Linked DNA regions of Homo sapiens. The protein of the gene in region 7 purifies or fractionates together with the protein of the main gene of each other region. This does not show direct contact. Each region holds a gene or a part of one and is shown on either strand. Other genes may lie near its edges. The genes, in order: RFNG, ELOVL1, KDSR, SCAMP2, TMCC3, ADPGK and HTR1B.

The links.
Region 1: the proteins of HTR1B (region 7) and RFNG purify together in Homo sapiens (affinity purification with mass spectrometry; one large-scale study listed by BioGRID and IntAct). This does not show direct contact.
Region 2: the proteins of HTR1B (region 7) and ELOVL1 purify together in Homo sapiens (affinity purification with mass spectrometry; one large-scale study listed by BioGRID and IntAct). This does not show direct contact.
Region 3: the proteins of HTR1B (region 7) and KDSR purify together in Homo sapiens (affinity purification with mass spectrometry; one large-scale study listed by BioGRID and IntAct). This does not show direct contact.
Region 4: the proteins of HTR1B (region 7) and SCAMP2 purify together in Homo sapiens (affinity purification with mass spectrometry; one large-scale study listed by BioGRID and IntAct). This does not show direct contact.
Region 5: the proteins of HTR1B (region 7) and TMCC3 purify together in Homo sapiens (affinity purification with mass spectrometry; one large-scale study listed by BioGRID and IntAct). This does not show direct contact.
Region 6: the proteins of HTR1B (region 7) and ADPGK purify together in Homo sapiens (affinity purification with mass spectrometry; one large-scale study listed by BioGRID and IntAct). This does not show direct contact.

What each region holds. Positions count from the first base shown.
Region 1 is NC_000017.11:82,048,611-82,053,270, reverse strand, and holds the start of RFNG (beta-1,3-N-acetylglucosaminyltransferase radical fringe), read left to right. Parts: upstream 1-1,459; 5' UTR 1,460-1,504; coding exon 1,505-1,771; exon of another isoform or gene 1,772-1,806; intron 1,807-1,928; coding exon 1,929-1,977; intron 1,978-2,179; exon of another isoform or gene 2,180-2,339; intron 2,340-2,506; coding exon 2,507-2,609; intron 2,610-2,715; coding exon 2,716-2,869; intron 2,870-3,264; coding exon 3,265-3,353; intron 3,354-3,428; coding exon 3,429-3,594; intron 3,595-4,154; coding exon 4,155-4,240; intron 4,241-4,463; coding exon 4,464-4,545; 3' UTR 4,546-4,660. Other genes in the region: GPS1 (COP9 signalosome complex subunit 1), read right to left, coding at 812-1,015, 1,307-1,339.
Region 2 is NC_000001.11:43,365,009-43,369,457, forward strand, and holds the start of ELOVL1 (very long chain fatty acid elongase 1), read right to left. Parts: upstream 3,004-4,449; 5' UTR 2,907-3,003; intron 2,707-2,906; exon of another isoform or gene 2,478-2,706; intron 616-2,477; 5' UTR 602-615; coding exon 556-601; intron 369-555; coding exon 178-368; intron 1-177. UniProt on the Homo sapiens protein: Catalyzes the first and rate-limiting reaction of the four reactions that constitute the long-chain fatty acids elongation cycle.
Region 3 is NC_000018.10:63,349,983-63,353,883, reverse strand, and holds part of KDSR (3-ketodihydrosphingosine reductase), read left to right. Parts: intron 1-2,804; coding exon 2,805-2,996; intron 2,997-3,901.
Region 4 is NC_000015.10:74,866,742-74,870,642, forward strand, and holds part of SCAMP2 (secretory carrier-associated membrane protein 2), read right to left. Parts: intron 1-3,901. UniProt on the Homo sapiens protein: Functions in post-Golgi recycling pathways. Acts as a recycling carrier to the cell surface.
Region 5 is NC_000012.12:94,643,896-94,647,796, forward strand, and holds part of TMCC3 (transmembrane and coiled-coil domain protein 3), read right to left. Parts: exon of another isoform or gene 2,543-3,901; intron 1-2,542.
Region 6 is NC_000015.10:72,752,634-72,756,534, forward strand, and holds part of ADPGK (ADP-dependent glucokinase isoform 4 precursor), read right to left. Parts: intron 3,815-3,901; coding exon 3,618-3,814; intron 3,022-3,617; coding exon 2,923-3,021; intron 509-2,922; coding exon of another isoform or gene 482-508; exon of another isoform or gene 436-481; intron 263-435; coding exon 1-262. UniProt on the Homo sapiens protein: Catalyzes the phosphorylation of D-glucose to D-glucose 6-phosphate using ADP as the phosphate donor. GDP and CDP can replace ADP, but with reduced efficiency.
Region 7 is NC_000006.12:77,460,692-77,464,991, forward strand, and holds HTR1B (5-hydroxytryptamine receptor 1B), read right to left. Parts: upstream 2,801-4,300; 5' UTR 2,713-2,800; coding exon 1,540-2,712; 3' UTR 233-1,539; downstream 1-232. UniProt on the Homo sapiens protein: G-protein coupled receptor for 5-hydroxytryptamine (serotonin). Also functions as a receptor for ergot alkaloid derivatives, various anxiolytic and antidepressant drugs and other psychoactive substances, such as lysergic acid diethylamide (LSD).

The DNA.
Region 1 (4,660 bases), on a different chromosome or scaffold from region 7:
CAACATGGGCCAGGCACCTGGCACCTCGTCCTGGGGACTGCCCCAGGAGGGCGAGAGACCCGCACTGTTCTCTGAGGTCAGCTCTGCCCAAGATCTTCCAGGCCAGTCGGACCACACTCCCGCCGCTGCTGTCCCCCAGGTGTGCCCTCCCAGTCACCCCCGCCCCCACCCAGGCTCCTGTGCCACCACATCAGGGAGGGGTCTCCTCACAAGACTCTAAGGCTCAGAAGCAGAAACCCCTCGCCTGATTCTAGCCGCTCATCTCTGAAAGCCAGAAAGCAGACAGGGGACAACCAACTACACAGGGGCCTCTGAGGGCCCCTACACGTTCCCAGCCACCATCCTGATGTAGTTTCCTCCAAGCCACGGAGAAGAACGGGACGCCACCTCAACCCCAGGAGGCAGGAGGACCAGCCCCCGGAATCTGTCCTGAGCAGCGGAGCAGCAATACTGGGCTGAGAGTCACGCCACGGAGTTGGGAGAAGGGGAAAAGAGTCATCTCAGGGAGCCTCATGGCCCCCAGCTGGGAGACACAGAGAAGCCAGGACCTCGGCTTAACACAAAGCAGGCTGGAAAAGCCGCCATGCCGGGCACTCGCCGGACCCGTGGGCCTCCCGCGCTCCTTCGGGAAAAGCACCAAGAGCTCGGCTCCCTCCGCAGGCCCCGGGCCCACCGGGGCTCCCTCCCCTCCTGCGCTTGGCACTGAGTCCCTGTCCTCGGCCAGCAGAGCAGCAGGGGCCCAGCCACAGCAGGGGCGGCCGGGGCCCTGCTCCCCCCTCCCTCGCTCGGGGGTCCCTGTCCTGGAAGGTACCTCGTAGAGCAGCGTACAGGCCGACAGGCTGGCGCTCAGGCTGAAGTCCCCGGCCGTGCCGGGCAGGACGAGGTCTGACCTACTGCTGTGAGGGGTGCAGTACAGATCTGTCACTGACGAGGAGGCCGAGCTGGGGGCCGAGCTATCCCTCATTCTGTCCTGACTTTCTGCACCCCCCGACCCTGACACAGAGCTGGCTGGCTGCTGAAGGGAGAAAGAGCGTTAGCGTCGGGGCGGCCGGGAACCTCTCCCGTGAGCTGCTGGGAGGGGAGGCGGGGCGGGCGCGGCCCGGCGGCCCCCGATCGCAGCGCGCAGCCACGGCGGAGACGCGCCCTCGGCCCTGCAGCCCCCGACGCGCGCTGCCCGCGGAGGCCCGGCACGGAGCGTGCCCGACCGACTCCTGGCGCAGGCCCCGCGCCCCTGCTCGACCTCAGCCCGGCCCCAGTGGCGGGGGGCGCGGGGGCGCGGAGGCCCGGGGCGGCCTCGGCTCGTTACCTGCAAGTTAAACACCTGAACCGGCAGCGGCATCTTGCACCCACCCCGCCGCGGCGTGCCGTCCACTTCCGGGGCAGCGAAGCCGTCGCTTCCGGGGCGCGGGGCGGGGCGGGGCCGCTGCGTTCTTAAAGGGGCCGCCGCCCACCCACGGCTCCGGCCAGGTTCTCCGCTCGCAGCGCCGGGGGTCCCGGCGGCCGCATGAGCCGCGCGCGTGGGGCGCTGTGCCGGGCCTGCCTCGCGCTGGCCGCGGCCCTGGCCGCGCTGCTGTTACTGCCGCTGCCGCTGCCCCGCGCGCCCGCCCCGGCCCGGACCCCCGCCCCGGCCCCGCGCGCGCCCCCGTCCCGGCCCGCTGCCCCCAGCCTGCGGCCTGACGACGTCTTCATCGCCGTCAAGACCACCCGGAAGAACCACGGGCCGCGCCTGCGGCTGCTGCTGCGCACCTGGATCTCCCGGGCCCGCCAGCAGGTGCGCCGGACCCCGACCCCGACGGCGAGCCCCACGCCCACCCGCCCCGCCTCCCAGGGTCTAGGCCCGGCCCAGGCCCCCGGAGGCTCCGCGCGGGGCGGGTCGGTCTCCGGCCTGGGCAGCGCCCCAGAAGCCTCATAGATTGTTTCTCCCCCAGACGTTTATCTTCACCGACGGGGACGACCCTGAGCTCGAGCTCCAGGGCGGTGAGTGTCCCCCACTCCCCGGCGCCCGCGGGATCTGCCCCCCGAGCCTTTCTCGCTCCGAAGCCACGGCCCCTTCGCTGCTGTGGGTGCCTTTCTCTGCCCAGGCTCCCGAGGCCCGGGGAGGCCCCGACGCTGCCCAGGTCACGCGGCCTGCGGAGGGCCCACCCTGCCAGCCAAGCTCTGCTCCCCACCAGCCTCTCACACTAGCCGCTTCCCGGGGCGTGGGGCTAGTGCCACGTCCCCTGAAGAAGCGCCAGCAGGGAATCCGCCCTTCCAGGCCAGGTCAGGGCGAGCTGCCTCCGTCCTGTTTCCACTCAAGAGATCCCAACCGATGGCCGCCTGCTTCAGCCTCGGTGGCACCAGCAGGGTCAGCGCGTGAGGGCTAGGGCTGTGGTTGGACCCAGGCAAGGTGTCCAGGCATGTCAGACAGCCACGTTGTGCCCTGGCCCTTGGGGGCAGGTGGGGCACAGGCCTTACCCCAACCCCAGTGCCATCCTCTACGTGCGTGCTTCCCGTCTCTGATTCGCAGGCGACCGTGTCATCAACACCAACTGCTCGGCGGTGCGCACTCGTCAGGCCCTCTGCTGCAAGATGTCCGTGGAGTATGACAAGTTCATTGAGTCCGGGCGCAAGTACGCGGCGCTGACCCGACCCGCAGAGAGCTCAGAGCCAAGCTGGGTGGGGGCCTCCTGTCCAGCCATGCCAGGCCCTCGTGCCCAGGACTCCCCTCGCCCACAGGTGGTTTTGCCACGTGGATGATGACAATTATGTGAACGCCAGGAGCCTCCTGCACCTGCTCTCCAGCTTCTCACCCAGCCAGGACGTCTACCTGGGGCGGCCCAGCCTGGACCACCCCATTGAGGCCACCGAGAGGGTCCAGGGTGGCAGAACTGTGAGTGTCGGAGCAGACGCCATCGGAGCAGACGCCTTCCTTGACACCAGCCCGGGAGGCACAGCAGAGGGCGTGGAAAGCTGGCTTGAGAAGGGCATAGGGTTGGGGGCCCAAGCTGATCCACCCAGGTGGTTTGCATGTGGTGTTTCAGGAGCAGGCCAGGAGGCCCTCACCGTACTGGGCAGAGAGGGGGTGTCTGGGCCAGGTGGGGAGGGTCTGGAGGCTACGGGTCAATGGCCTGCAGAAGCCCCCGGCTCTTTTTGCTCCAAGAAGCTTCTGTTACCTGGGTGGGATCTCCTAAGGGGCAGCTTAAGAAAGATGCCTGGGGAGTCCCATGAAGAGTCAGGGGTGAGAAGCCCTGTCCTGGGCAGCTCTGACCACCACCCCATCTTCAGGTGACCACGGTCAAGTTCTGGTTTGCTACTGGTGGGGCCGGGTTCTGCCTCAGCAGAGGCCTTGCCCTCAAGATGAGCCCATGGGCCAGGTGAGTGGGGGTCCAGCTGCCCGGGCTGGGAGGCGGAGGCTGAGACCTGAAAGGTGCTGACCGGCCTCCCCCCAGCCTGGGCAGCTTCATGAGCACAGCTGAGCAGGTGCGGCTGCCGGATGACTGCACAGTTGGCTACATCGTGGAGGGGCTCCTGGGCGCCCGCCTGCTGCACAGCCCCCTCTTCCACTCTCACCTGGAGAACCTGCAGAGGCTGCCGCCCGACACCCTGCTCCAGCAGGTACAGGCGCCACTCTGGGTGCCTCTGCCACCTGGGCTTTGCCCCGCCCTGACTCCCCCAGGGGCCCCACTGCCCCGGCCCGATGCCCGGCTGAGCAGGCAGGTGGGATTTGCATGTGGCTGGGGGTGGACCCTGGACAGGCCCCTTGGCCTGTTGGACACAGGGTCCTCACGTACAGATGGGGTATGGTGTCTGGGGCAGAGGAACGAGGGGAGAAGCACAGTTCTCGGGCCAGTGAGGCCCCATGCCAGCTGGGCAGTGGGTGTGGTGTGTATGGTGATGGTGAGTCGGAACAGGTCCCATCACGTGGAGCAGGGAGGGAATGAGGGTCAGCTTTGCCCTGGAGGTTTCAGATCCCTATCTTCTGTCCCCCAGGCTCTGCCTGAGGTGTCCCCCTACTCAGCTCATGCCATGCTTCAATGCTGTTTCCAAGCCTGGCCTCCCCGAGGGCCTGGGGAGAGGGGGTGGGCAAAGGGGCTCTAGCAGGGCTCCTGGCCAGGGGCAGGCGTGGCCCGAGACCAGACCAGGCCACACACTCTGCCCACACCCTTCCCTCCCAGGTTACCTTGAGCCATGGGGGTCCTGAGAACCCACATAACGTGGTGAACGTGGCTGGAGGCTTCAGCCTGCATCAAGACCCCACACGGTGAGTAGGTAGTGGCATGGGCAGGCCCTCGGCCCCGCAGGGGCTCTGGCATCAGCTCCCTCTACCCACGGCCCTGACCCCCGCTGCTCCCTCCGCCCACGGCCCTGACCCCGGCTTCTCCCTGTACCCACGGCCCTGACCCCAGGTTCTCCCGCCGCCCACGGCCCTGGCCCCCGCTTCTCTCTCCGCCCACGGCCCTGACCCCTACTTCTTCCTTCCCCAGGTTTAAGTCTATCCATTGTCTTCTGTACCCAGACACGGACTGGTGTCCCAGGCAGAAACAGGGCGCCCCGACCTCTCGGTGACACCAACCACCCCGACCCAGGGCTGCCTGGCTCTGTCCCAGGCGCGGGGAACCAGAGCCCCCTATGGGCTCAGTGGGCTCCCTCAGGTGCCACGGCCACACCAGTGAGATGCAGG
Region 2 (4,449 bases), on a different chromosome or scaffold from region 7:
CTGGGAAGGGATGTGGATTAGACCACCAGAGTTCTCCCTTCCCAGCCATCCCTCCCCTTCGCTAGCTGAGGACATGGATCTGAACCTCTCTGGAAAGGAGAAATGCCATGCTCTGGCTCTATGGCCTGCTCCTTATCCTGCTGACAGAAATTAAAGCCCGGCATCCCAGGGGCCCACCTCATAGACAATGTAGAGGGAGAGTGCCACCAGTGAGAAGTTGTAGACAATCATGAAGCCACGGAGCTGGAAGGGCTTCCGATTAGCCATGATGCGAGGCCCAAGTGAGAGAACGAAGTACACGTAGGTCAGGAGAATGGAGGTCATTAGCAAGGGGGACCCCATCAGAGGGTAGCCCTGGATCCGGGGATCTATGAATAAGGGTCAAAGGAATCAGGAAGAGTCACAGGGTTCGAAGGGTCTTCATTTGAAGGGTCTACAGACATGAGGTCAGGTCACAGGATCAAGGGTTTCATAGGAACTCTCCATTAGAAGACAGCCGTAGATCCAGGGATCCCGGGAAAGAAGGAAGGAAAGGGCTGGTGGATAGCGTCTTACCTGCGTGCTTCATCACCTCTTGGTACAAGTTCACAACAGCCTCCATCCTGGCTAAGGACTCTGGGGAGGTACAGAGGGCGGATGTCAGACAGATCCCACTGCACACCCCCATCCCACAGAGATAAGACACAGAACCAGACAAGACACCTGCAATGCCTCATTGCAGAAAGGACAGAACAGTGAAAGGAAGGAATTACTGGGAACTAGGGGGAGGAGGCAGTTTGGTTGAGGCATCTGCTCCCCACACATCCTGCTTGCCTGGGAAGAGCTGTTCCACCCTTCCTCTCCACACCTTACTCTCCTCTCCTCTCCACAGTTTTACTTCCTGGCCTCCCTTCCCCTCTTCCTCCACAAGATAACTCTCAATTCCAGGTCTCTTACTGGAGAATCTTACCTTCTCACCAACAGGGAGCTCTTGAACTCCGTCTCCCTTCCTCACCCGAGTCCCTCACCTCCCCAGCTCTGGGTCTTTCTTCTCTCCAGGGATTCTCCCCTTCAATCTCTCCTCTCCTGCCCTCTCCTCTTCCCATCCCTCTGGACCCTTCCTGAACTCTCTTCTCCCCAGGGTCCCTCCTGTCCCTGCCAGGACTCTCACCTCTCTGGGCCCTTCTGTCCCTCCAGAACCTTATCCTCGGATTCCTCCTTGCCTGTGCTGGGACACTTATGTCCCTACGATTCTCCTCTGCCTTTCCTGGGACTCTCACCTCCAGCCTCTCCTCTCCAGCGCTCTCCTCTCTCCTCTCGCAGAGCCCTTCCTCTCCTGGAGCCTGGCTCTTTGAGACTCCTGCCCCGGCGGCTCCACCTGTCTGACTAGATCTGGCAGCAGCCCCGCCCTCTGCCCGCCCCTGCTGTACTGTGCAGGGGGTGGAGGGTGGGTCCGGGCCACAGGTCAGTGCCTGGGGGAGCAGGACCCACCAGGATTGGGAAAGCCAAGTAAAGCCCCAGACTCGCCACCCACCCACCCACGTGGGACCAGCCTGATGAGCTAAGGTCCTAGATTCTGAGCCAGAAACCTCCTCTGACCCCAGCCCCAGCCCCAGCCCTGGCCCAAAGCACTGCTGAAAATCCACACCCAGCATCCTCTCCTAAGCCGGCCATAACTGCTCAGTTTGTCCTACTTCAGAATGGGTACAATCACTCTTCCCTTCCTGGGAAGGGCAGGGAAGCCAGTGGCATGTGAAGGGGTTGGGGAGTGGGGGAGGTCGCAGGAATCTTCCCCTCCCTCAGGGAGGGGCCCCGTTGGGCTAGGCCCCCTCCCCCTCAGGGCCTGAAGGAATGTCGGGGGAAGGCTCCCAGGGACACAAAAGCCTCTGGCCAGACCCAGGAGAGCATGGTACTGACAGTCCCTGAGGGACAAGGCATTCTTGGAACAGAGCAGGGCCCAGGGCAGCAGGTGCCCCAGACTCCCTGCTTCCAGAGAAGCACCTCTGCAGATGCCAAGTGAAGAGGCGCACCTCTGACACCTCCCTGCCCCGCACACCCCTCACCTCCAGGAGGCCCGGCTTCTTTAGGCCCACCGTGGTCAGGCCCCAAGCCTGCGGTCCACACCCACCTCTCACCTAGCTCTCCACCCCCAACAGCGAAGGTGCCACGCCGAGGGCTGGCACACACGTCTCCTGCCTGACACACCACGCAACACCTCCGTGGGCTGACACGCATGGCTCCCGGCCCTCACGCAGCTCGGCCACCGCCCAGGCACACGCACGGGCTCACCCGCGGGGCCACTCACACACGTGTGCGCGCTGCCTGGCCACGCTCGGATCCCCTCCTTACTTGCTCCCCCACCATCGGGCTTGCTGGCCGCCCATCGCCGGCAGGGCCCAGGCCGGGGCGAGGGCGCCAACACAGGTTCCTCCCTGACACATGGGAGCCAGCCAGCCTGTTATCTCTCAACCACCAGCCCCCAATATCAACCCACACACCCGGCAGGCCAGGAGGGACCAAGGCTCCTGGGAGGACCTCTCCCCAAGCTGCAGGAAAATCTGGGTGTGTCTCTCGTCGGGGAACTCAGCCCGTCCCTTCCTTCCTTTAAGATGGATGGAAGGGAAAAGGTGCCTGGCAAAGTTAGGGTAGCGGGGGGAGGGAGGGGAGAGGAGGAGGGAGAGAGGTAAATGCAGGGGTGGTGGAGGAAGGCCCGGGTGTAGGCAAATGGGGGCCAGAGACGGGGGTGTGGGGGAGGGAGGGTGCTGGCGAGGCCCGGCCCCAGGGAGCTGGGACCTCCCACCCACTGGCCCCGGGAACACCCTCGCCCACAGCCTGGGCAGGGCAGGGCAGGGCTGGGCCGGGCTGGGCCGGGCTGGCCAGGCAGGGGGCGCCGGCACGTGGAGAGTCCGTGGAAGGTCCAGACTCACCCGTAGGGGCCAGGCGGGCAACGGCGGAGCGCTCGGAGGGAGCAGGGCCAGAGAGAAGTCCCCGGGGCCAGCCTGCCTGCCTGCCACTTCCTCATCTGCTGGGCCGACTTTCTGTCACCAGAGGGGGAGGGGCGGGCCGCGCGGGGGGCGCCCGCTGATTGGGCGGCCGGCAGGGCCGGAGGCCGGCAGCGCAGGCTCGGCCGGGGCGGGGGCAGGGGCGTGCCGCCGGGTCCCAGCAGGAAGCGCCGCGGCCCGGGCTTCCCACCCCTTCCCTCGCCGCCCGGGCCCGCCCTGGCCAGTTGCAGCGGCCTGGCCACCTCAGGAGCACGCTGTCTCTTCCCGACGTGCAGCCCGGGGCCCGGCCCTGTCCCCGGGTGACTGCTCCCCGGCAGGACTGCACATCTGTGGCGGCAGGCCCAGCTCAGGGCTCGGGGGAGGTTCGGCCTTGCCTTCAAAGAGCTCCCTCTCCTGCAGGGCGAGCGCAGAGCGGCGGGCGAGACCACACTGCGTGTGCTGAGGGCGCACTGGTCTTAGCGGGAGGGAAGCCTCACGAGCCTGTACACTTGGAGGAGCCCTAAGCGTTAGGATCTGCTGCGAGGGCTGCCTGGAACGGAGGTGAGAGGATACAAGTGGCCCGGGGCAAGCATAGTGAATCACTGGCTAATCTGGCCTTCGAGGTAGTGAAAGGAAAAAAGGGAAATGAAGCTGACTGTGGCTGAATGTAGTAGGTCTTGAAGGCCAAATGGGGCGATCTGATTTTTATTCTAGAAGCAGAGGAGAAACTAAAGATTTTTTTAGGAGACTATATTCAAGCTTGTATCATTAGTTCATCAGACGTTTATGGACCACCCACCGTCCGTGCACTCACGGGGCTTGCAGTCTATCTGGCTGAATCACTTTGGCAGCCAGTGTGAGGAGGGCACAGAAAGGAGACCAGGTGAGAAAGCCAGCCTGACCAAAGAAGATGTGGCAACTGATGGGATTGGAGGAGGCGGACAATGTCCTCCAGACAGCTGGACTGGCTCTCTATATATTTATTTATCTCTTCTACACCTCCAGCCCCCACCTCCACACTCACTAACTGGACTCAACTAGTGGGGGCAAAGGACAGACTAGATTTTAGTGAAATGGAATTTCTACCTCCAGCGGCCCCTGGAACAGTAGCACACAACGATCTAACAACTGCTTGTATGATTGGATGGTGTAAGTGCGGACAGAATTAGGGAATTTGGGCTACTCTGGGCACACTGCTTATGGGGCAGCCCTGCTCCGCAAGGAAAATAAACACATTTTTTTAAAAAAAGGCCGGGCGCGGTGGCTCACGCCTGTAATCCCAGCACTTTGGGAGGCCAAGGCAGGCGGATCACGAGGTCAGGAGATCGAGACCATCCTGGCTAACACGGTGAAACCCCATCTCTACTAAAAATACAAAAAATTAGCCGGGCGTGGTGGCGGGCGTCTGTAGTCCCAGCTACTCGGGAGACTGAGACAGAATGGTGTGAACCCGGGAGGCAGAGCTTGCAGTGAGCCGAGATCGCACCAC
Region 3 (3,901 bases), on a different chromosome or scaffold from region 7:
CTAAAGCATATGCATCACCCATAGGGCGGCCCTCACCTGGTAAGCAGTTGCTCCCCATCCCTGCTCACCCCCACACCCAATCTCTGACAACCACCAATCTGTATTCTGTCTCTGGTCATTTCGTATGATTGGAATCATGATATGTGCACTTCTGTGTCTGACCTCTTTCTCTTAGCATCAGTTTTTGAGGCTCATCCACATGTAGCATATATGGGTGCCTCATTCCTTTTTATAGGGTGGTGATATTCCTTTGTATGGATCGACCACATTCTGTTTAGCTATTCATCATCGATGGCCATTTGGGCTGTGTCTAGCTGACTGCTTATTAAATAGACTCTTAGTCCCTACTCCTGTCTCAGCCCCATGCCAGCCCACCCTTCCCTCCACCCCAGAGACTCTTGCAGCTGGAGCCTTTTGGGGTTCTGTAGTAGAATCTGGCTTTTTAGTTTCTCCACTCCCCGCTTAGCATTTAGTTTTTTGTGGTCTGCTAAGTTAGTTATCCCTCCTCAACCTGTTCTTCAGCTTCCAAAAGGTTATTGCTGTTATTTTTATTCTTATTTTCTTTGTTCTTGTGTGTTCTTGCCTTAAAAAACATCTCTTTACGGAGATTTTAGTAAGGTTTCTAAAGGGAGCCAAAGTAAACACAGGCGTTCAGTGTGACGTCTTTTTTCAGATATTCTTTTAGAACTTTCTTTTTTTTTTGGAGACGGAGTCTTACTCTGTCACCCAGGCTGGAGTGCAGTGGCTCAATCTCGGGTCACTGCAGCCTCCACTTCCCAGGCTCAAGCAATTCTCCTGCCTCAGCCTCCCGAGTAGCTGGGATTACAGTTGCCCACCACTATGCCTGGCTAATTTTTTTTTTTTTTTTTTTGTATTTTTAGTAGAGTCGGGTTTTCACCATGTTGGTCACGCTGGTCTCGAACTCCTGACCTCAGGTAATCCACCTACCTTGGCCTCCCAAAGTGCTGGGATTACAGGCATGAGCCACCGTGCCCGGCTTAGAACATTTTTTATTATCAAAACAATATTATGTTACGAAAACACACTTTTGGAAAAAAAAGAGAATCCCAGCATCCTAACTCAGTCACTTATGATCTTCTGTATTTCCTTGGTCTTCCCTCTGAGCATGTGTACTTTTACTTAACCTTTGAAGTAATTACAGTTACAGCATATATACAGTCTAGCTTCTGCTTTTTAAACTTAAATAGCATAGATATTTTTCCCTGTCACTCCCAGTGTTTCTGGTCATCATTTAAAACAATTATCTAGGCCAAGTACAGTGGCTCACACCTGTAATCCCAACACTTTGGGAGGCCGAGGCAGGCAGATCACTTGAGGTCAGGAGTTCGAGACCAGCCTGCCCAACATGGCGAAACCCTATCTCTACTAAAAATACAAAAAATTAGCTAGGCATGGTGGCTGGCGCCTGTAATCCCAGCTACTTGGGAGGCTGAGGCAGGAGAATCGCTTGAACCCAGGAGGCAGAGGTTACAGTGAGCCAAGATCACACCACTGTACTCCAGCCTGGGTGACAAGAGCAAAACTCCATTTCAAACAAATACAAACAAACAACAATAAAAAAATCTAATATTCTCTTGAATTAAGATATTATGATTGTATGTTCATGTTCTGTTCATAATATGAAAAAAAATTATGATTGATCTCAAGTTCCACAATTGAGGTATTTAGTTTTTATTTACATGATGATCTAATATTTTTACAAATATTTGAATATTTGAAACATTTTAATGCAAGTATTATTAAATTTTCGAGTTAAAATTTAAGGTTTTTAAGAGCTCAGGCTAGGCGCAGTGGCTCATGCCTGTAATCCCATCACTTTGGGAGGTCAAGGCAGGAGTACTGCTGGAGCCCAGGAGTTCAAGACCAGCCTAGGCAAAATAAAAGGACCCTGTTACTACAAAAAATACAAAAATTAGCTGGACGTGGTGGCATGTGCCTGTAGTCCCAGGTCCTCAAGAGGCTGAGGCAGGAGGATTGCTTGAGCCCAGGAGATTGAGACTGCAGTAAGCCAAGGTTGCACCATTGCACTTCAGCCTGGGTGACAGAGTGAGACCCCGTCTCTAAAAAAAATGATAATAGTAAAAAAGCAAAAAATAAATAAATAAAAATTAAAAGCTTCCAAGACAAGGAGAAAATACACTATTAGTACTCTTACCCATCATAATGGGAGAGCCAGTGGTTCTTGAGGTCCAGGACTGTGCTAGCGCTTGTGTTTTCTCTTTTAATCTTTGCAACAGCCCTATGCGGTCATACCCTTGTTGACCTTGTTTACAGCCAAGAAAATAAGTAGAATGTCTGACTTTCTTATTCATCATCAAATAGGCAATAAATGGGAGACCCAAGGCTTGAAACCAAAACTTTAAATCACCCTCCTACTCTGTGTTTTTCTTATAGCTTAGAACTAATAGGGCTACAAATACTTGGAACCTCTTTCCTAAAACTGTCTTTCAGAAAGTACTACCCACAAACATGCAGTATACTTTTTATAAGGAGAAAACTAACTTTGACCAGTTTTCAGGAAAAACATTAACTGCTGTCATGGTCAGAATGCAAGACTAGACTGAAACAGTCTTCAAATGGTAGGTCCTGAGTCTTCAAATGCTAGGTCTCAAATCACATTTCATTTATATCATCATGTCATCATTCATTCATTCAGCAAGCCTGTTGGGCTTCCCAGTCACTTGAGCTTGCATTGAAGAACTGAAATCCAGAAAGCAGACTAAATTCTCCATGTGCACAGCCTTGAGGCTTTTGACCTCATGTGGCCTCTTTGTTCCCTGCAGAGGTTAATGAGCATCAATTACCTGGGCAGCGTGTACCCCAGCCGGGCCGTGATCACCACCATGAAGGAGCGCCGGGTGGGCAGGATCGTGTTTGTGTCCTCCCAGGCAGGACAGTTGGGATTATTCGGTTTCACAGCCTACTCTGCATCCAAGTTTGCCATAAGGGGATTGGCAGAAGCTTTGCAGATGGAGGTAAAAGTTGTATTCATTTTTGTATTTATTCCTCTCCGCTCAGCAATATACATTCCGCTTTAGTTTTATAGCTTCTTTACATGTGTTGTTGTATTAAATTAGAGATTTTTAGGTTTGACATTGGTGAAAGAGAATTGGCTCAACCCTGAGTTTTGCAGTTAACATTTTTCATTGCATGAAGACTATAGTTAACGACAGATGCAAAATGGTAATGGGATTTTTGCTTGTTTAACTTAATACACAAAATATTAGTGATATCTTCATAGTGTTATTAGTCTAATACTGTGTGAATGTGAGTAAGGTTAACCAGATATTTTATTTTATAGAGATTTTTCTTTAACAAGAAGTTTGTCCTTATGACTGAATAATACGTGAAATTAGTATATGTTTGAGGGAAGAGCTTGAATCAGCTGCTAATTTTTAGCTTTTAGACAAGTCATTTAACTTGCTCTCAGTTTCCTCATCTGTAAAATGGGAGGGTTGGAATAAAGCAATAATTTGACTCTCCCAATATTTATATTTTTATATCTTAAAGAATTGTTGGGAAAATGAATGCTTTTTATTTACATAGTTAATGGAACATTTTGTGGAAGAAGGATGTAGTTAGGATTTGCATCAAAATAGCGTCTGTCATGATGAGTGCAACTTTACACCTCAGCTGCTTGAAGCCGACTTCCACATTATTGTCACACAGGAATGCTTAGAGAGCATCACATACGTATCTACCCAAAAATCACATGCTGAAAAAGGCAAGGGAAAGTTCTTTCTATTGCTGTGTACAGTCATCCCCTCTTATCCGCAAGGGATGTGAGCTAAGACCCCCAGTGGATGCCTAAAATGTTAAGAGCCCAGAAGAGTATTCACTGTGGCCAACCCTCTTATAGTAAGAGTGTGCTTTTGGGAAT
Region 4 (3,901 bases), on a different chromosome or scaffold from region 7:
CTGCCCTGATCCCACTTGTGATGTGCTGTCACTCTCAGTGAGCATTTATTTTCTTTCTTTTTTTTTTTTTTTTGAGATGGAGTCTCGCTCTGTCATGCAGGCTGGGGGGCAGTGGTGCAATCTCGGCTCGCTGCAACCTCCGCCTCCCGGGTTCAAGCGATTCTCCTGCCTCAGCCTCCCGAGTAGCTGGAACTACAGGTGCCCGCCATCACGCCTGGCTAATTTTTGCATTTTTAGTAGAGATGGGGTTTCACCATATTGGCCAGGCTGGTCTCGAACTCCTGACCTTGTGATCCGCCCGCCTTGGCCTCCCAAAGTGCTGGGATTACAGGCGTGAGCCACTGCGCCCCAGCCTCAGTGAGTATTTCTTAGCTCTCCTGCCAGAAGCCATTGATCACATACTGTGCTCATTTACCATGGTCTCCTGCACAGGCCTGCAGAGCAGCATGACCTCAGTGATGTGCACTAACGTGAACATCTCAAAGCAGCACTTGCTGGATGGGTCACAGTTTGCAAATGTGCACAGCACTCTTCTCTGAATGAACAGCAAGTACCCCTTGTTTGTCCTGGTTAAATATTACCATTTCTCTGAAATTAAGATTATCTTACCCCAAGTGTTTCCAAAGAAGACTTAACGGAAGAGTCAAAGTTCACCTATCTCTCTACCCAAGTTTTAACACCCAGCCTGGCTCCAGGTGCCAACCATAAAGGCAGGAATCCTATCTGGGCAGCTGTCTGTAGTCACAGTGAAGCTGTAAGAACCCTGCCATTTTCAAATTTCTTGAGACAATGCTCTGTTACACAGGAAAGTTCTACCAGGTCCATCTGGTTATTCCAAGAATTCCCAAAGTTATGGTCAAGCTGGGGCCAACCCTCTCTGGGAAGGTCCCACTGTCTGCACAGGGAAATTCAAGTAACTTTGTTCACACCCAAATCACGTTTCTGCCACCACTTCTTCCTTCCACAGGAGAGAAATATTTCAAATCCTTGGGAAGCAGCCACAACACTGAGATTATCTTTTAACTGCAAGGAGGCAATGTGTGAAAGTGATATTGTGTGACTTGGCAACTTACAAACACTGAAAGGTTTTCTCTGTTCAATGCCACCACCTATTCCACTTCCTCTCCTTGAGATCAATGCTGTCTGCCTGGGATAATCTGGCAGAAGTGCTGAGTGGGAAAGCAGCCCTAGGCACTTGCCTGGGTGGTCTGATTTTTAGTGGACTGCTGAAAAATGGACAGTACAATGACTCCCTTTAGCTTTCCACCCCTTCATCACCTGACAAGACTTAATGAGAAACTTTTGGGAGCAGACACCCTGGATCATTCCAAAGCAGAGACCGAAATACTCAGAGGGTACAAAGCAGCTGCCATAACCAACAGAGGAATTAGGGTGTGCCAGTGGAGGCTGTGAAATCAACAACACTTGGCTTGCAGTTTCCTGCTTCCTCCTAGGAGGTGGGCAAACCTCTGTGGCACACTCATATCTTAACTTCCCATTCACAGCTCTTTCTGTGCAGGAAGTTTTCTAATCATCCCGATCATAACCACACGCAAGGAAGAGGTCATAAAAGCACATGCCCACAGTGCGGGGTGGAAGCAGGCACTTAATAAAGAACCTTGGATGAGGAAGTCAACTAAATGGTGCACTGGGAGTTTCAAAGGATATAACGACTGAGCAGAAAACAGATTCCATGGTCGAATAACCTTGAGAAATGCTGGGTCAAATAAAGCTGAGCCAATGTCTTTTTGTAGGATTTCTCAGAGCCTTTAACAAACTAACAGGCCTTGTGAATCTTTATTTTGGTTTGTTTGTTTTTTGAGATAGAGTTTCACTCTATTACCCAGGCTGGAGTGCAAAGGCACTCCTCAGCTCACTGCAACCTCCACCTCCCAGGCTCAAGTGATCCCCCTGTGGCAGCCTCCCGAGTAGCTGAGCCCACAGGTGCATGCCACCACACCCAGCTAATTTTTTGTATTTGTTGTAGAGATGGGGTTTTGCCATGTTGCCTAGGCCATTCTCAAACTCATGACCTCAAGTGATCCACCTGCCTTGGCCTCCCAAATTGCTGAGATTATAGGTGTGAGCCACCATGCCTGGCCAAGCCTTGTGAATCTTTGAAAAAACAAACAGGCTGGGCACAGTGGCTCACGCCTGTAATCCTAGCACTTTGGGAGGCTGAGGCGGGTGGATCACCTGAGGTCTGGAGTTCGTGACCAGCCTGGCCAACATGGTAAAACCCTGTCTCTAGTAAAAATACAGAAATTCTGAGCGTGGTGGTGGGTGCCTGTAATCCTACCTACTCAGGAGGCTGAGGCAGGAGAATCGCTTGAACCCAGGAGGTGGAGACTGCAGTGAGCCAAGATCGCACCATTGCACTCTAGCCTGGGCAAAAGAGCGAAACACCATCTCAAAAAACATAAACAAAGAAACAAAAACGAAATAGGTAGCAATTCCCAAACCTATTTGACCACAGAACCATGAGCACCTTTCAGGACTGGCATTACTCAGAATATATATTGCTTTAAAGAACTGTCTTAAAAAGCCCAAGAATTGTTCTCCAGTGGAAAAAAAAAACCAATAATAAAAAATAAAAAAATTAAAGAACAAAAGCACAAGATCTGTATTATTCCATCCCCTCACACTGGAGAAAAAATGTAGCTTAGCTAATACTAATTTGTTACTTTCACCACTCCCAGTACTCTCAAGAATGGTGACAACTGTGATGATGTTACATTCCATTCTTTCCTTAGCCAGCCTAAAATAGCCCCAGTGCAGTTTAACACCAATGTCTGAGCTTCAAAACCTTTAAAACAGCCCTGTCCTGGGAATGAGACCCAGGTCAGCACCTTCCTGCTGCTAAACAACTGATGACTCTGGCACATACCATCCTCATTGAGGTCTTGGTTTCCTCATCTCTAAACTGAAGAGGTTAGAATAGAGTTCTAAGAATGTTCTCAGCTCTTAACAGTCAACTATGAGCTCTGAACACTAGGTATATTTTTGCAATCCACCATTTCTGTCACTGCATGACGGAAATAAAAACGACTGTTCTGGAGTGTGACTAGGTGTGACAGTTTCTGAGTCTATCGCCTCTCCACCTGCTCTCTCCTGAGCTTGGTGCCAACACCCTGAGTAAATGAAGCTGGGCTCACACCCAGGCACCCAAGGGCTACACCTCCCAACGTCCTAGCCCTGGCAGTCAAGGAAGCAGACATCACCATCTCAAGGAAAAGGTGGGCAGCTCTGACCAGGAGAAGGTTCAGAGGCCTCACATCCAAAGCTGTTTCTCCCCACACCACTGTGTGCCAAGAGGAAAAGCCCAGCCCAGGATGAGGAGGAGCAAATCGCAGCCAGCCAGCCAGCTTTCTTCTTCCCACCCAGGACTCCCCACCAGATGTGGCTGGTTGACAGGACCACAGCTGCTTCCTGTCATGCCATATCCTGGGGCTTCCTGATGGACAGACTGTCTCGCTAGAATGCAGAAGTTACTTCTACCACAGTTTGCACAGTCATTTTTGGAGCCAGAGATGAGGTTTAAGACTTTCAAGCAGCTATTAATACAGGGTAGAACTATCTTGCCCTCTGCTAACACTGGAGCAAAGCTCTCTGCATTTTTAGACAACTGACTTCCTCTCTGTCAGACAGCAGCAGACTTTTTATTTCTGATTCTGAGAGGACAAAAAAACACACATAAAAAATGGAAAATCATCACATACAACATACACCATAAGGCTACAAGATCCTACTAAAACCCAAACCCCAGTATTATACAGCAGTTTTGTAATTAAAGTCTGTTACCAGAAGACATTGGCAGAAAAAAAAAATGCAAATCTTCTTTCTTTACTCAATAGAGATGACTGTTTGCCTTACATAAGAGACAAGGTCCTTGCAAACGCTC
Region 5 (3,901 bases), on a different chromosome or scaffold from region 7:
AGATCTTAGAGAAACTAATAATCTGTCTGGGCCTCAGCCTCCCCATCTGTAAAATGGAAAAGTGGGATATTGTGGAAGACCAAGGAGATCATGTATTTGAAGTGCTTCATGTTGCCTGGTGTACAGTAAGCACTCAGTACACATTAACTATTATTGTGACTGCATTCTTCCTTTCACCTATGTTCTTTTTACCTCCTTACAGAGGAATAATCCACAAATATACTATGGTTCCTTTCAGGCAGCACCCCTCCCAAGTCGACGGAAGCAGTTGGCCTATGCACAAATCATATATCCTGATGTTCTCTTTCGAAGGAATGAAAAGTCCTCATTCTGATTCACAGTACAGTGATTCATGGTTCTCTTCCTCTTCTCTTGTCACCCTCCTCCCCTCCACTGAAAACATGAAAACACAATTAAGAAACCACAGGGCTGAAAGCTGCAGACTCTTCTAAGTCAAGCTGCGGGCATTTTCCAAGTAGGACTAGGTTGATTTCTGACCTTAGCAGCAGTCCTGGAGATGCCGGCAGAGGGTCTGAAGCAAAATACACCCTGAGATCCAACTTGGTAGCAGCTGTCTTGGTGATCTCTACAGCGGATGTGACAGGCGGGTGAGCTGGTGGTGGCCGGCAGTTCCTTCTCCTCTAAAGGAAAAGCCTGCAACAAAGTACAGCTCGAAAAACACACACCGCATCACTTTGCTCATCCTAAATGTAAGAAAAACCTGGCTTGAGACACTCACCATTATTCATTCTCTTTAAGAGGCTCTTTAGAACAAAACAAATCACCGGTGAAAACGATATCTGTGTACTACTCAACTTACCACTTCACCGGGTCAGTGTCCTCCAGGACAGAGGTCAGTTTCCACTCCCCCTATTTCCTGCCCAGGGAGTAAGCATGTGATCATCAACTTACTACATCACTGCCCAACCAGTTCCACTGTGAGAAGGGCTACAGCATCCTCTTCTTCACTGCCTTTGGTCATTACTCATCATGTAATTGTAGATGGATTTCCAAACCACAGAACACTTGAAGATATACTACAGGTGGCACTCACGCTTGACACAAGTTTTACTTCAGATGTTAGAGATTTCTGCATGTATTATCATCATGTTCTCCTGTACAAGACAGGGGTATTGTCCGGAACCACAAGAATAAATGAGATACACCCACCAGATATTAAGTTTCCACAGAGACCAGACTGTTTCATTTACCATTGTATTCCTGATGCCTAGATCAGCAGCCAGCACACAGAAGGTGCTCAGTAAGTATTTTTTGAATAAACGAAGCATCTTGCTCTCAAAGTGCCAATGTCTATAGTTTATAAATACATGTAAGCATTAAACATATAAACAGTCAATGTCATGAGAAACATGACGCAAGGAGGCACAAAATGCTAGCAATGCTAGAAAAGTCTATACTTTTCACAAAATTAGCAGCCTTTCCGTTTCTAAGCTCACAAATCCCTCTTTCATATAGTACAGGTCCCCTATTCAAAATGCTTGGAACTAGAAGTGTTTCAGATTTCAGATTTTGGAATTTGTTTTGTTTAGTTTTGTTTCGGAGATGGAGTCTCCCTCTGTTGCCCAGGCTGGAGTGCAATGGCACAATCCTGGCTCACTGCAACCTCTGCCTCCCAGGTTCAAGCGATTCTCCTGCCTCAGCCTCCCTAGTAGCTGGGATTACAGGCACCTGCCACCATGCCGAGCTAATTTTTTTGTATTTTTAGTAGAGACCGGATTTTACCATGTTGGCCAAGCTGGTCTCAAACTCCTGAACTCAAGTGATCTACCCACCTGGCTTCCCAAAGTGTTAGAATTACAGGCATGAGCCACCATGCCCGGCCTAGGAATCTTTGTATTATACTTACTGGTTGAGCATTCCAAATAGAAATATCTGAAATCAGAAATGCTCCTGTAAGCATTTCCTTTGAGCGTCATGTTGACGCTCAAAAAGTTTTGGATTTTGGCTTTTGGATTGAGATGCTCGGCCTATAGTAAAAGTGGTTAACATCTATTGATTTCTTATTGTGCACCCGGCATGGAGTTAAACATTTTATAGACATTACTGAATTTATTCCTCAAAACACCCCTATTATGTAGAAGTAGGAACTAAGGCTTAGAGTGATTACAGGATCCAAGATTACACTGGTAGCAAACAGCACTGGTACAAGATCTGTATTCTGGGGACTATCCTAATGCAAATGGTTCTGTAGGGAAAATAATATGGTCCTTGCATGCAGGATGGAACAGAAGTTGGTGAAGGTCATAAGTGACTAAGGTGGGGGATGATTGGGAGATATGGAAGAAACCAATTCCAGAGAAATGTCAGAGAAAGGTGCGGTGGTATTGCTAATAGGTTAGAGAGATGGGGGAGGGCAGGCACTCAAGATGACTAGCAGTTCTGATTAGTAGTGGCACCAACAAAATAGAAAAAAATTATTAACCTGACATATAGACAAATACAGCTTTTTCACCCAGTGAGAGAACATAAATTTAAAAAAATTTTTTTAAATAGCTAATATTTGAAAGCACACACCTTTTTTTTTTTTTTTTTTTTTTTTGAGAGGAAGTCTCACTCTTGTCCCCCAGGCTGGAGTGCAATGGCACGATCTCAGCTCTCTGCAATCTCCGCCTCCCGGGTTCAAGAGATTCTCCTGCCTCAGCCTTCCGAGTAGCTGGGATTACAGGCACCTGCCACCATGCCTGGTTAATTTTTGTATTTTTAGTAGAGACAGGGTTTCAACATGTTGGCCAGGTTGGTCTTGAACTCCTGACCTCAGGTGATCCACCTGCCTCGGCCTCCCAAAGTCCTGGGATTACAGGCGTGAGCCACCGTGCCTGGCTTTTTTTTTTTTTTTTAAAAAACAAATACTTTCTTATTTAAGACACACAATCACTCCCAGAAGAGTGGAGTATTACCTCTTTTACAGATGGGAAACTGGAGGCTCAGAAAGGCTATTTAGGACCTTGCCCCAGTGGTCACCCAGTTAAGAAGCTCGAAGAGCCAGAATACAACCCACGTAGGTCCAGAGCCCCAGCTGTCCACCACTATACTCAAGTGGCTGGAGAGGGCATTTTAGAACACTTAAAATGAAAACCAACTAAAAGAAAACCTAATTCACACATCATTAATAAAAGCCAGTTACTGTATAGAAAGCAGACGGCCTGTATTCTTAAAAAGATGATAGGCTTTAACTATCTAGGGCATGAAAAAAAAGTAGGAGTCTAATTATGGATGCTCTTTCTTCTAAAGTAGAGAGATATGTGCATCAAGTTAACAAGCACCATTTCTGAGTTTTACAAAGATGAAGTTTTAAAATGTGAATGATCCTGACTTGTCAGCTTAGCAACAATCACAGAATTCATTACTTACATTTTCACTAAGGGGGGAGGGGTTATCTAGGTCAGTCCACCTAGATGTAAAAATAGATTTCTGCAATGTTGAAAGAGTACACTGCCTCATTATTATTCCAGTCTCAAAGGCTGAAATAAGCCCAGCAAGACAGACCATGTAGTTTCCCTGTTATCTCAACAGGTATTGATTTTGAATTTAAAAAATGACCATTCAGTAACTAAGAACTTCATCTCATGGAGTCTTTGCCCACTTCTAGGCAGAAACTCCATATCCCTGAAAGATTAGTCGACTCTTCCCATGACCCCCTAGTTCTCATTGGCATTTTTAGGGGAGCTAATTCACCAAATGAGTTCATAAAAGGGTTCTTTTTAAATCCTATACTAGTTTCCTCCCAAGGAGATGGTGACATCAAGAAATTAGCACTCGATGTCTTCCTCTCGCATCACATACGTTCTGGGTGTCAGGAAAACATATCTTTACAGCTGCATCCAAGTGAGTTCCACAATACAGGAGCTACGATCATTTAAATGGATGAATACTTTCTGCA
Region 6 (3,901 bases), on a different chromosome or scaffold from region 7:
CCAGCTGGTTGGCCCAGTGTCCATCCACAGTTGCCAGGATGTGGTAGACCAGCGTGTGGAAATGGATCCTGGTGAGATCCGAGGCTCTGCTTTTACTCCTCCCATGTTCTTTCAAGATCCAGAAGAGGATGTCACTGACCATGCCCACATCAGGAACACCGTTCCAGGAAGAGAGAGAAGAGTGAGGTCCAGAGGCTGACTGGGTGAGAAATAACAGCTCCTGTTCATTCAGCCCAAGGGAAGTCACCGCGGGAAAGACCTGCTAACAAAAACAACAACAGGTATCTTTCTGATGGAGATAACCTGGCTCCTAAGATGTCTTATGACACAGCCAGTGACTAAATGACAGGGAACACAGGCAGGCAGCTTTCTTCCTTGATACAGGACTCCCTGGCCCTGAAGTCACTGTTTTAGCTATCACACCCCTATCTTCACCTTCATCATCATTTGGGAGAAACTGGAAAGCTGCAGTAACATTGTTTCAGATGCAGTCTTTTGTGATATGCCACTGTAAGACAAAAGGCAGAGGTGTCTATATTTTGTGTTTCTTTCCATGGTCCCTAGCTTTTGCCACTGCACACATAGGAGATACTCTTACCACTGATGGGGCATGGCTCTCAGTTCCTGAATGTCAGCAGTATTAGACCAGTAAAATGGAGACCTCAAGCAACATACTGTCAGGGTTATAATGATTTTTTTTATACAAAACACCAAGAAGCAAAAAGCATACAGTTTCATGTTAGAGCTAAGCTTTTTAAAAGCAGGTGTGGGTTAGGAAGACTGTCTGAATTTAGCAATAACACTGTAAGAAAAAGATTACCAAACAGGTGCCCGTGTTTTCTGTCTGATGGGGAACCACAATATCCACCTCCCTGTCTTTCTTACTTAGCACTTCCCTCCTTAGAACCAGAGAACCACACTTAAGGTAACAATTTTTGCAGGAGAGAGGAGTCCTTGTATGTATGTGTGCATGTATAAAATGGTTTTAAAAATTTAATGGCCTACATCTTTGTTGGAGCAATAGCAGCTTTCCTTCACTGCATGTTCTTCTGTGTCAGGCACTGAGCTAAAGGCTTTATTTCATCCAATTCTTACTGTAATCTTCTGAGGGAAGGAGGGACTGCCTCCATTGTACAGACTAAGCCTCAGAAGGGTTAAGTAGACAGTTACAGAGAAAATGAAATAGAAATGGCTCATTTTTTTAAAGGTGAGAAGAAAAACCCAAACAAAAGCTATACTGAAAAACACCAAGAGTGAACCCAAGTGTAAACTATGGACTTTGGGTGCTGATGACGTGCCTGTGTAGGCTCACTAGCTTAACAAATGTACCACTCTGGTGCAGGCTGCTGGTAGTTGGGGAGGCTTGTGTGTGAGGGGACTGGAAGTATATGGGAACTCTCTTGGATTCTGCTCTATTTTGCTATGCACCTAATATTACCATAAAAAAAAAATGAAGTCTATCAAAAAAAAAAAAAACAAAACCAACGACAGTCAGCCCTCCATATCCATGGCTTCAACCAACTTCAGATGGAAAACAGAGTATTCAAGGATGTGGAACCTGCAGATAGGGAGGGCCAACTTGTCTAATCCACAGATTCCACAGGGCCAACTGCAGGACTTAACCATCTGCAGATTCTAGTATCTGGGAAGGGTTCTGGAACCGCCCCCGCCGCCCCACACACCGCTGATGACGAGGGATGACTGTATACTGAAATACCATTTTTTCATCTGTCAGACTGATATAAATGCAAATTTTAACATTCTGGTAGCAAGGATATGAGGGAACAAGTATTTGTAATTATTGCCAGTGGGAAGTAAACTGGTATAATTCTTATGGAGGGCAATCTGGCAATCTCAAAATTACAAGTGCTTTTTTATGCTCCAGTCCAGCTGTTCTACTTCTGAGACTTTCTCCTAAATATGGACTTGTTCACAGGCAAAACAAAATCATGTATCAAGTTGTTCACTGCAGCACTGTGTGTAACAGCAAAGGGCAGTAAATAACCAATATGTCCATCCAGAAGGTTCAGGTTAAGTAAACGGAGGTACATCTACACATTCATTTTAACCATATGGCTATGAAAAGACAGAGGATACTCTCCATGTTAGTGATGCAGGAAGATCTCCAAGATATATTTAGTGAAAAAAAGAGCAAAGTGAAGAACAGAGTATTCAGTAGGCTATGCTATCTTTTTGGGTAAAAAGGGATGGAAAACAAAATCAGGATATATTTCTGTATTTTCTTATACTTGTACAAAAGAACTCTGGAAATAAACTGATGAAGGGTGCAAGTAGGGAAGGGGAGGAAGTAGAAGGGAGACTTCATTGTATATCTTTTCATAGTTTTTGGGTATTTTTTAACCAAATGAATATATTACCAATTAAAATTAGGTAACACTAGATTGCCAGGTGAGGTAACTTGCCTGAGTTCATGAAGCCCGTGAGTGCAAGGCTGGCATGCGAACCCAGGTCTCCAGAGCTTGTGTTCTGAAGCTTCACCTGCTCAGATTTATACTAGTCAATGCTGCTGCCCAGAGGCAGGCACTGAACACCCAGATGCCTGAGGAAGGAGGGAGGTTCCCTCAAAGTTTCTTTGCTTTGAGCTTCTTGAAGTTCAACTGAAAGCAGCTGAGCTGGGCTTTCAGTTTTTTCCATTCACTTTCAACTTTTCCATTCCAGAGGAGAAATATGATCAACAATCTGTCAGTTACACTGCCATAACTTTAACCTAGTAGGAGATACTGCTGTTTCAGAACAGTCCTGGATCCTTATTTGGATCTCCATGGACTTGGGTCTGAGTGACACAAACCTACATGTCAGTGAGCCAGTCCCTGAGCCCAAACAGATGGTCCCACTGCACAAAAAAGCTTCTCTGCAAGGCTCTATGAGGATCAGGGCCAAACGATGGTCCCATGAGGTTACCTGATGGACAATGCTGCTCATGAGCTCCCTGTTAGTCATACTGGCCAGCTCTAGGTGAACTGGAATACCAGTGGGGATGTCAGAAATGGAGGTTACAACCTGCAAAGAGAAGAAGATAAGCACTGCCATTAGAAATAGAAGGAAGTCAAGAAAGAGGGAAGAAAAGATCAGATCCTGAGAGGCGGTTCCTCCTGGTAATGGCCTTCTTTGCATGCTCACGGGAGCTACAAGCAATGTGGGTCCCCACCACCTCTGTGGACAAGGGACACTCTTCCCACCAGGGAAGACTAGGCTGTGCAGAGCCATCAGGGATACAGAATCAGAGATGGCAGTTCACTTCGACTGCTGTACGAATCTGTAGGAGTTGCAGCATAGCTGATGTGAAGTGAGATGATACAAATAACACAAAGGACACAAACTACAAACCCTGCAGCTTGCAGCCATGGTCGGTTTAGCACAGGATGCAGAGGCTCAGGCAAGAAGATGTTCTGCCCTGTCCTACTCAAGCTGCTGCCCACATCTGAAGGGATACAGTGAGGTGCCTCACTGCAGCAGGAGGCAAGCTCCACAGCCAGCTGCCAAGATATGTCCCTGGGAGGCCAGGACCTAAGACAAGGCAGCAGATGCCAAGAGAGGCTGGAACCTGAAGAAAACCACCAGCTGAGATCTGTGAAATTCTGTAACAGTGCCATTACCTCCAAGAGTCTCTTCCTCTGGAGCTCCTTGCTTTGTCCCTCCATCATGTGCAATCCAGAGAGGACCACCAGGTCTGGCTGAAACTCCTCCAGGCTAGACACAAACACCTCCAGCATATTCATGGCCCCGTTGGAGAGGTCGTGAGAGAAGATGAATCGGTTGGCATGGGGAGCTTTTAACTGGCCCCACTCCTCCCCTGGAAAAACCCAGTCAACACAATGGGAAGAAAAGGAAGAGGCTTTAGGTCTCCTAGCTGTGGGGGCACTTTCAGGCACCTCACAGG
Region 7 (4,300 bases):
TATATTAATTGAGATATCAGGTTGGTAACAAATTTACAAAGGTCAAAAGCTTGCCAGTTTCCTGATTGTTAGTAAGTCTGAGGTTTGGTTCTGCAATTTTTTCTTTTTTAAACAAACAAAAAACAAGACAAAAACAGGCTCAATTTTAGTTTCTCTAAGCTTTTCTAAAGTTCTTATATGTCATTTTCTAGCAATCTTTTCTCCTGCCCAAACTTCAATAACAACAACAACAAAAAAGAAACAAGTTTATTTTCTTTTCAATATCGTTTTTAGGGCCCTTAACTGTATTTTTAAGGTTTCTGGAGAAGGAAGATAGTTCTCTTGGTTTCTTTATATGTTAGCACACAAGGAATCACAGATGGGAAGGAGAGTGCAAATGACTATCAGATAAAAGTTTCATGCATTTTAAGATTTTTTTACAAGTCAAAATATACATCCTCCTATTGCCCCCACCCCATTCCTCAATTGTGTAAGAACTATCCCCATGTCATCAGTCTCCTTCACATCTCACTAAATTGGATAAGAAATAAAGACACTTTTCTTGTTAAGAAACAGTATATTTCCAATACTAATCGGTTTTACCAATTGCATTAGTAAGAAATATAGCAGCAGTGTGGGCTGAGTCACCCATCATACCCTTCATTTATGGGGATTTAAATGTGTAAAGTGACAGGTACATGAAATTAAGAGAAAAAATAAAGCAGTCTGCAGACTTCGGCACTAGCACACATAATGGTTTGTTTGTTAGAGTTGTGGCTTGACAATCGCTAAACAGGAATTACAAAATTGTAAATCTGCAGAAAACAAACAATCATAGGTGTTGATTCTCAGTTTAACACTCCTCATCTCCCATTCCCACCCACCCACCCCCATATAGTTTCAAGTATAATAAAAATAGAGATCTCAGCATCAGAATTTTGCTGTTAACTCTTCAAGGTTTCTCTGCGCCATCCAAGCCACACATAGGGTTTGAAGCACCAAATCCACAAGTTTCTCCAACCAAGTTTAAATAGACAAAAAGTGAAGACTGAATGATGCCAAAGTAACTGTTCTTAAATTAAGCTGTAACACAAAGTTCTCCCCCCAAAAACACAGGGCATTAAGCGTCTAGTTCAAGTACTGCCAGGCTGTATGTAGATCTGTCTCAGACAGGCTTCAGACAACAATTACAAGTACACTGCTTCTAGTGGGCATTATCCACGATACCAAAGCAGGGCAGGGATTCCCTTCCATTATCAATTTTTAAAAGTTGCAACCCCCTTTGGGATTGGCTGCCGCAGGGTCAGTGCTGAGCCCGGGGCTTGAGGGGAGGAAGTGAGCCTCCTCCTGGGCAGGGAAGCTCTACATTTAGTTTCAACACTTCTCCTTTCAGAGCTCTCTCTCAGGACTATTCTGGCTTCTCAGGATCCATTGCCCTTGCCCAGGAGAGAGAGCCTCGCTGGGACCCAGAAACCGCGAAAGAAGATTCGACCTACCTGTGGAACCAGACACAACTTGGTCCCCAAAGGTCGCTTAGGCGACCCCACTGCAAACGGCAAGTCAACTTGTGCACTTAAAACGTATCAGTTTATGGAATGCTTGTTTAAAGTCCTCATTGGACATGGTATAGATTATGGGGTTGATGAGGGAGTTGAGATAGCCCAGCCATGTGAAGAAGTCAAAGATGGCTAGGTGGAACCAGCAGGCATCTTTGCAGATAGGCATCACTAGGGAGATGATGAAGAAGGGTAGCCAACACACAATAAAGGCTCCCAAAATGATCCCTAGGGTCTTGGTGGCTTTGCGCTCCCTAGCGGCCATGAGTTTCTTCTTTTCCAGCAGGGCGTCGGAGACTCGCACTTTGACTTGGTTCACATACACAGGAGATCCGGATTCGCTGGGCACGTCGGGAACCCGCGAGTTAATAGAGGTGACCGAGGACGTGGACCCGGGGGAGTCGGTTATCAGCTGGGCTCGGGTCAAGCGCTTGCCGGTCCTGTTGGGCGTCTGTTTCAAAATCCGGGAGCGGGCTTCTACGTAGATGCGGCCATAGAGGGCGATGAGGAGCAGGGTGGGGAAGTAGAAAGCACCCACCGTGGAGTAGACCGTGTAGAGGATGTGGTCGGTGTTCACCACGCATTCCGACACCTCCTCTTCGGCCTTAGCCTGACGCCAGAAGAAGGGCGGCAGCGAGATAGAGATGGAGAAGACCCACACCAGCGCGATCATGACCGCCGCCCTCTTGGGAGTCCTTTTAGCTGAGTACTCCACGGCGTCCGTGATGGCCCAGTAGCGGTCCAGGGCGATGACACAGAGGTGCAGGATGGAGGCAGTGCAACAAGTGATGTCCGACGACAGCCAGAAGTCACAGACCACCTGGCCCAGTGTCCAGCGGCCGGTGACAGTGTACATGGTGCTGATGGGCATCACCAGGATGGACACAAGCAGGTCGGTGACCGCCAGAGAGGCGATCAGGTAGTTAGCCGGGGTGTGCAGTTTCCGGGTCCGGTACACTGTGGCAATCACAAAGGCATTGGAGAGCGTGGTGGCCAAGGTGATGAGCGCCAATAGCATAACCAGCAGTACTTTCCAGGGTAGGGAGATGGAGTCCTGGTAAATGTAGTCCTTGGCGCTGCAGTTTTGGGAGGGAGCAGAGGATAAGTTGGCTTGAGGAACCCAGGTCTCGGAGCCCGCGGGCGGCGGTGGAGCGCACTGAGCACCCGGTTCCTCCATGGCTCTCCTCGCCCCAGCTCCGGAGCGCAGCTCTTGGGCATGGAGCGGACGAAGGAGAGGGCGGAAGGACCGTGGCGATCGCAGGTTTGTCCCCAGTTGATAGTTCCGTGAGTTCCTCAATTATTCCTCCGCCCAGGTTCACAGCTGAAACTAGAGGTCATGGGTGCGGCAGCCAAGGCAGGCGGGCGCCTCCCCTGCACTTCCAGAGCGCCTAGCTAAGCCGCCGCGTCTGTGGTTGTTCCTCTCCACACCGGGTCTTAGACCTGGGTTGCTAAGAGCTGGCCCACCGAGCCCTGCTCCGCTCCAGCTCCCTGGAGGCGTCTAGTGCAGGAGGGTGAAGTACTGCTTGAGGAGAAGGCTTTGACCAAATGGGATCTCTTACCCCAGTTGCTTGAGGCTGAGCGTCTCCTAACCTGGACGCTTTTGGATCTGCAGACTTTGCCCACAGGAGTTTCCTAGGTGTAGAGACCAAAGCTTGCAGGCCAGCGAGAGGTCCCGAGATCTTGCATTCCCACCCCTCGCCCCAAGCTGGGGCACTTTTGGGGGGCTGCAGCGGCCGCCAGAGCTGGGTGGGGTGAAGTCTAGGAGCAGCGCTGCGCCGCGCCTCGCGCCGGAGCTCTGCCCTCCCTCTCTTTTCACTCTCTGGCCACTCGGACGAGCTGCCCCGCGGAGACGGAGCCATAAAAGGGGGGACACGGGGGCTGGAGTTGCGGCTGCTCGGGCCGCGCCGCCGCCACCGCCACCCTGGTCCCACGGGAGCCACTCGGAGCCATGCCACTGGGTGCGCGGGTCTGGAGGACCTGGCGCGGCACACTGGGAAGGGGCAGGTGTCTGGGGGAGCTGGAGGGACGCGGCGTGCACCAGCCCGGGAGAAGCGTGCGAGCTACGGAGCAGATGGGCTCTTTATATAGAGTCCAGGTCCGGTCCGCCAGAGCAGTGCAACTCGTGCGGCGCGGCGGGTGCGGACGCCCGCTCCCCATCACCTTCCCTTTTTCTCTCTCCCTCCCTCTTTTCCCCCCGCCCTGTTCCTTTCCTGGCCAAGGAAGCTCCCGCCGGGTCCTACCGCCCTATCTCCCCGCTTCCCACCCTGGGCCATCCTCCCAGCCCTGACAACCTGGAGCTGCATTTCTGGTCAGGGGAAGAAGGCGTCCTGTTCTCGCCTCTACGGACATCAGAGCTTGCTGCGCTGACCTCCAGTGAGACCCATGTCCTTAGCCATGGTCACAGGTTTAGTCCAGCAGTCTGGCCCTAGGCTCCTGCCTACCACTCCCACCCTAGGAGGCCAGTGTTAGGCGGGGAAGCCCTGGTCTCTGACCTCTCCGCTCTAAAATCATATCCAGCCCTGATGGCCACACCCAGGTTAGGAGGCACCAGTAATATCGCTGTAGAGGGCCCAATGTTTGCATTTTGTACTTTGCCGTCCTTAACTCTTGATACAATAAAAACTATTTTTTCATCTAGTTTTAGAAATTTGTGTTTTTCACTCAACTATGAGTCAACAGGGAAAAAGACAAGCTATCTGCGAAAATGTAAAAGTTATCACAAACAGAAGCCAACTGTATGTGAAATTAAACCTTCTGCTCCACCA